Regions from separate parts of the Homo sapiens genome. Here region 1 is linked to region 2. The links come from fine-mapping of genetic effects on gene expression. A gene starts in region 2. The other region holds a variant in brackets. All regions are shown on one strand. Distances are between the middles of the regions. Region 1 has its middle 24 kb from the start of LINC02070. Region 2 holds the start of LINC02070 (long intergenic non-protein coding RNA 2070).

Evidence for each region. PIP is the estimated chance that this variant, and not a neighbour inherited with it, causes the effect. A credible set is the group of variants that fine-mapping cannot tell apart.
Region 1: its variant is the best candidate, but not a certain one, in a credible set for the expression of LINC02070 in cerebellar hemisphere (GTEx, PIP 0.70).

What each region holds. Positions count from the first base shown.
Region 1 is chr3:86,504,654-86,507,572 of GRCh38, reverse strand. No RefSeq gene overlaps it. Among named protein-coding and RNA genes, the nearest start is that of LINC02070, 24 kb to the right of the region's middle. The variant A/G (reference allele first, on the strand shown) is at 1,574.
Region 2 is chr3:86,480,641-86,483,559 of GRCh38, reverse strand. LINC02070 (long intergenic non-protein coding RNA 2070) reads right to left here and starts at 1,617. Exons shown (of 2, transcript NR_135563.1): 1 at 1,503-1,617. RefSeq lists an enhancer at 1,631-2,830.

The DNA of each region.
Region 1 (2,919 bases), 24 kb before region 2:
CATGTTTACCTATGTAACAAACCTGCACATCCTGCACATGGATCCTGGAATTTCAAATAAAATTAAATTAAATTTTAAAAAATTTAAAAAACCCAAATGTGTAAAAAATTACTCTTTTATCTTTTATCCACTAAAATTTACTGAGCACCTAAAATGTACCAGTAACAAATAATTAGCACATGTTACTGCAAAATACCTTTACTATCATCATCACAATTGGCATTATTATAATATTACCAGAAATCCACAAATGTTTATTAAAACACAACTATTGGAGAAATTGCAGTGTAGTGGTAGGAAAGACTATCTTTGTCCTACACTTAATGGAACTTATAGTCTATTGAAATAATAAAAAAATTTTACATGGTAGATTTCAATTTAAAAATGCATTCAGTTGCACCATCTATTTTCTCTTTATGACATGTTAAACTCTTAAATACCGAATATTTAACTTCTCTTATTTTCCTATTTTATCATAAACATAATCCTCTGGTTTTACTCATCCAGCTGCTTGTACCATGATACCTATCATTTAATCATATTATCACAAAGATACTACTTTCTGGAGCATCTGTCTGGGAAGGTTATTCGAGTTTAAGGATGCTGCAGTTACAATGGCACATTTAGTTATAAATATTCCCTGCATAAGCAGCTGGCCGTAGAATACACAAGCTCAGGAGGGAGAGCTGGGCTGGAGACTTGAAATTAATGAGTCATGTTGTTGGTAGATGAGGCCATTGATAAAACCACCCAGGAAAGGGAAAAAATTAGGTGAGAACGGGGAGAGAACCTAAGGATTTACGTCTAAGAAACAGATGGGATTGGTCAAAGGAGAAGCTTGCCTAGGAGACATGTAAGACTAGTCTGTGATACATGAGAAATTAGGAGATTGTGCCCTGGATGGGAGCTTACAAGAGCAGAGAGTGGTCAAACATGATTAAGATACTAGACTAAAAAATTTCAAAGTAGTTTCTGCAATTAGGGTATTAATGGTGACCCACAACAAGTGACTTCAGGGAGCTGGAATTGATTTTGTGTTTCAAGAGTGAATGTGGTCAGGAAGTGAAGAGAGCCAGACTGTATGATTATATTTGACAACATCAAGAGTACATTTTTATTTTATTTTTTTGTGTCCACACTTCTAAAAGTCAAATATTCTCTCTCTTTTCTAATCTCCTCCCCTTCCCTTCCTTCCCCTCTCTTTTCTCTTTCTCTCTCTCTCTCTCTCTCTCTCCTATCTTTGGTACCCTGAGACTACTTACCAGTATTCTTCAGACACTAGAATGCTGGAGTAAGAATTTGATTGACAGAAAAAAAAGTTGAAATTATATAATTCTTTATAAATGTTAAGTTTTACTTCCCTGGTACTGGATTCAACATGTGGAAGGAGTTAGGTGTTTGCTTCACATTTCTGCTTCTCTGGTAGTCAGCTAAAACCAATTTGGTAAATAACACTGCTCTCTGGGGGAACTGAATGCCAAGATTGGCAGCTAGTTCACTGAGTTCTCTCTGAAGTGGTTCAAGAAAGAAAAAAAAATTCTGATCTCTATGGAGCATTCTTCTAAAAACAGAT[A/G]TATCAACCCAATGAAAAATTCTTCACCAAAGCATTTATAGAGCAAACTTCCTGGTATTGAAATTTTGACATGGTAGACCAATCTAGGGAGATTTATACTTTTACTTTTATCCTAAAAAAACAGTATCATAAATTATTCCAAAACGATTCCTTCTCTATTTACAACACTACTTGGAATATGTTCTGGAACATGAGTTAAGTGATTATTTCACCCTTTTCTACATATTTGATGTAGCTCCCTGAATCTCTCCTAGTTTAATAAATTCTCCACATTATGCAAATAAACTCATACAACAGTGCCTAACACAGAAGAAGCATTCATTAAATATTAAGTATTTTGGGTGAGAGGCAAATCGTATGTCTTCCTTGAAGCTGAAATGCTCTGTGATTGCTTTTCAACCTCTTTGTGCATCTAGGATGCAGACACATAACCTAGATTTTAGCATAAGAAACACCCTCTATGGTTTTTGAATTGAAATACACTGACAGAAGGATATTAAAGAAACAGGGGCAACAGAAAATACATTCTGATGGCCAAGAGTGGCCATGGGGCAAACGTGCTGATTTCTGGGGCAAAAGTAGCAGTGCTTTTAAGAGCAGTCTAAGATGTCCATAGAAGCTGGATCATCCTGTGTTCAGTGGTAGAGACCTGTTCCTCTTCTGTGCCGTGAATTTGGCTAAGTTCTTGACTGCACCCTAGCATCCTTCGTCCTACTCTTTTTCTGTACTTCATTTTCAATATTTTGGGTGTTTTGTGATCTCACACTGTTTTTAAAAATTTATTTTCTGCTTAAACTGGAGTCAGACTTTTTAGCCTACAGCTAAGAACCCTGATAGATACAATTGCTATATACATCAGAACTCAGAAACAGTCACTAAGGACCTTATCAAATTTGCCTGACTATATATTATTAATACCTCAAAACAATTCAAGTGTGGTATACCAATGTGAAAATAATGTTTATTCTTCAGATCTTGCAACTAAATGAGATATAAATGCTTGGTTACTTAAAACATCAATTTGGTGACTGAGACCATAGAAGGTCATGTTTGATTTCCACCAATGGAGATGGTTTGTTCAAACTCAATGGGCCACTTTCTGGCTGATTTCTGGTGATGACCGCTGAAAAGCATGTTGATTTAAAAAAAAAAAAAACTGCTTAATAATGTCCCAAGCAATATTTCCAGCCTCTGTACTTTAAGGACCGTTTTGAATGTGATCTCCAGACACTACCTATTTGTTTACTTTCACAGCTCTGTGATTACCGCCCTTCCTGATGGACCACTGTCCTACCTCAATACCTTTGTTGCCAAAGCAGGAATTTTCTAGCTAATAAGGAAGTCCA
Region 2 (2,919 bases):
GAGAGACATGAAAATAAATGGCTAAAATGCAGTGGAGCTGTGTTCAGAGGTAGACATATACATAGGTGTCTTAGTACATTTATATTGCTATAAAGGAATACGTGAGACTGGTTAATATTTATATATATTTATAAAGAAAAGAGGTTGTTTTAACTCAGTTCTGCAGACTGTGCAAGCAGCATTACACCAGTATCTGCTTCTGGTGAGGTCTCAGGAAACTTACAATCATGGTGAAAGCAAAAGGAGACAGCATCTCACATGGAGAGAGCAAGTAAGAAAGAGAGAAAGAGGTACCAGGTCCCTTTTTAAACAACCAGATCTCATGTGAATTCATTACAATGGGGAGGGCACCAAGCCATTCATGAGGGATCCGTTCCCATGACCCAAACAAACACCTCCCACAAGGCCCTTCCTCTAATACTGGAAATCACATTTCAACATGAGTCTTGGAGAGGACAAATTTCCAAACAATATTAATAGGCTAATATGAATCAATATGAGGAAAGGTTTCCAATATTTGAAATGCTGTGGGGAGAGGAATGCAAGAGGAGGGGTCCAGAAAACTTCAGTGAAGAGATTACTTCTAAGTTGAGTCTTAAAAATTGATGAGGTGGCCAGGCACGGTGGCTCACACCTGTAATCCCAGCACTTTGGGAGGCCCAGGTGGGTGGATCACAAGGTCAGGAGTTCAAGACCAGCCTGGACAAGATGGTGAAACCCCATCTCTGCTAAAAATACAAAAATTACTCAGGCATGATGGTGGGTGCCTATAATCCCGGCTACTCGGGAGGCCGAGGCAGAAAATTGCTTGAACCTGGGAAGCGGAGGTTGCAGTGAGCAGAGATTGCACCACCACACTCCAGCCTGGGTGACAGAGTGAGACTCAGTCTAAAAAAAAAAAAAGGTTGACTAGGTATTAGGTATTAGCAAGGCAAAGAAAGAGAGAGTAGTTCTAAGGAGGGATCAATGTGGAAGGCAAAAGTACACGATAAAAAAAGATAAAAGATGAAGAAGAGAAAGCATGAAGGAATCTGATTATGCCTTATTTGCCTTGTTCACCTCTTTATTTATTGTCCATTTGTTTCTTCAACAGACATTTGCACAGCTCATAGGTACCATGCAGAATGCTTCACAGTGAAGAGCCTGAACTTTGTACTACATGTGAGAACAATAAATTTCCTATGAGCTTGTATTTTAGGACATGTTACTTTGACATTTCTCTGCAGGGAAAAATGGAAGGGTTTAAGACTGCAGGCATGAAGAGAGGCTGTTGTAATAATCCATGAAAACTTGATAATGGTCCACATTAGGGCAGTGGTAATAGAGAGGATCAGACTGATTTAATAAATATTTAAAAACAGCAGGGTGGAGCAAGATGGCAGAATAGAAGGCTTAACTGATCACCGTTGCTGCCTGCAAGAAAATCAATTACCAATTTAACAACTATCTACACAAAATAGTACTATCATAAGAACCAAAAATAAGGTGAGCACTTACAGTACCTGGTTTTAACTCCACAGCATTGAAAAAGGCACTGAAGATGTAGGAAAAACAGTCTTGAATCACTGATACCACCATTCTCCCATCCTGTAGCAGCAGCAGCATGATGCAGAGAGTGATTCTGTGAACTCAGGAGAGGGGGAGTACAACATTTGTAAGGCATTGAATTCAGTGTTGCTCTGTTATAGCAGATGGCAAAACTGGACCAAATTCAACTGACTCCAACCTACAAGGGAGCACTTAAACCAACCCTTGCCAGGGGGGAATCCCTGATTCCAGCAGTCTGAACTTGAGTTCCCACAAACCTTGCCACCATGGGCTAAAGTGCTCAGGTGCCCTACCTAATGTTAAAGGCCATCTAGACCATGAAGACCGCAGCTCCTAGACAAGTCCTACTGCTGAACTTGGCTGACAACCAGTGACATGGGGGCATGTGACATACTGAGGCACCAGCTAGGGCAGCCAAGGGAGTCCTGGCATCACCCCACTACTTAACCCCCAGCTGCACAGCCCACAGCTTCAAAAGGAGCTTCTACTGAGGAGGGGAGTGAGAAGAGCAGGAAAGACATTGTCTTACATCTTGAATAACAGCTCAGCCACTGCAGGATAGAGCACCAGTCAGAGTCATGAGGCCTCCTTTCCAAGCCCCAGCTACTGGATGACATTTCTAGACACACCTTGGGCCAGAAGGGAACCTGCTGCATTGAAAGGAAAGACCCAGCCCTAGCAGAATTTATAACCTGCTAACTGAAGAGCCCTGGGGCCCTGAACAACCAGCAGTGATATCCAGGTCTTACATAAAGGGCCTCTGGTGAGCCTCTGATACTTACTGGCTTCAGGTGTGACTCAGCACATTACCAGTTATGGTGGTGTTAAGGCAAGACTACTTATGCTTAAGAAAGGCAGGGGGAAAGTTTGCTTGCACCTTAGTTCACAGCTCACCCACAGCAGGGTAAAGCAACTAGGAGTCTCTTAGAATCTGGATTGCAGGACTTGGCTCTTAAATGACATTTCTAAACCTAATCAGGCCCAGAGGGGAATCCGCTGTCCTGTGGAGTCTCAGGCCAGGCAGCATTCACCACAAGCTGACTGAAGAGCCCTTGGGCCTTAAGGGAACATCAGTGGTAATCTGCTGGTACTGCCCATGGGCCTGTAATGATCAGGACCATAGAGTAAGACTCTTCTGCCTTTTGAAAGGGGAGAGAAGAGTGGAAATGCAGTTCTCTGTGATTCTCTGTGTTAAGCAGAAATTCTGGAATATGAAAAATGCAAGTAACTGCATCTTTTGATGTGAGTGCTAGCTCTGCCACAGTACAATGGAATACTATGTAGACTTCTAAGATTTTTTTTAACTACTCCTACTGCTAAGATGCCTTAACTCCTGAAGGCAACTTCGGACCCACCCAAGGCCTGGGAAAC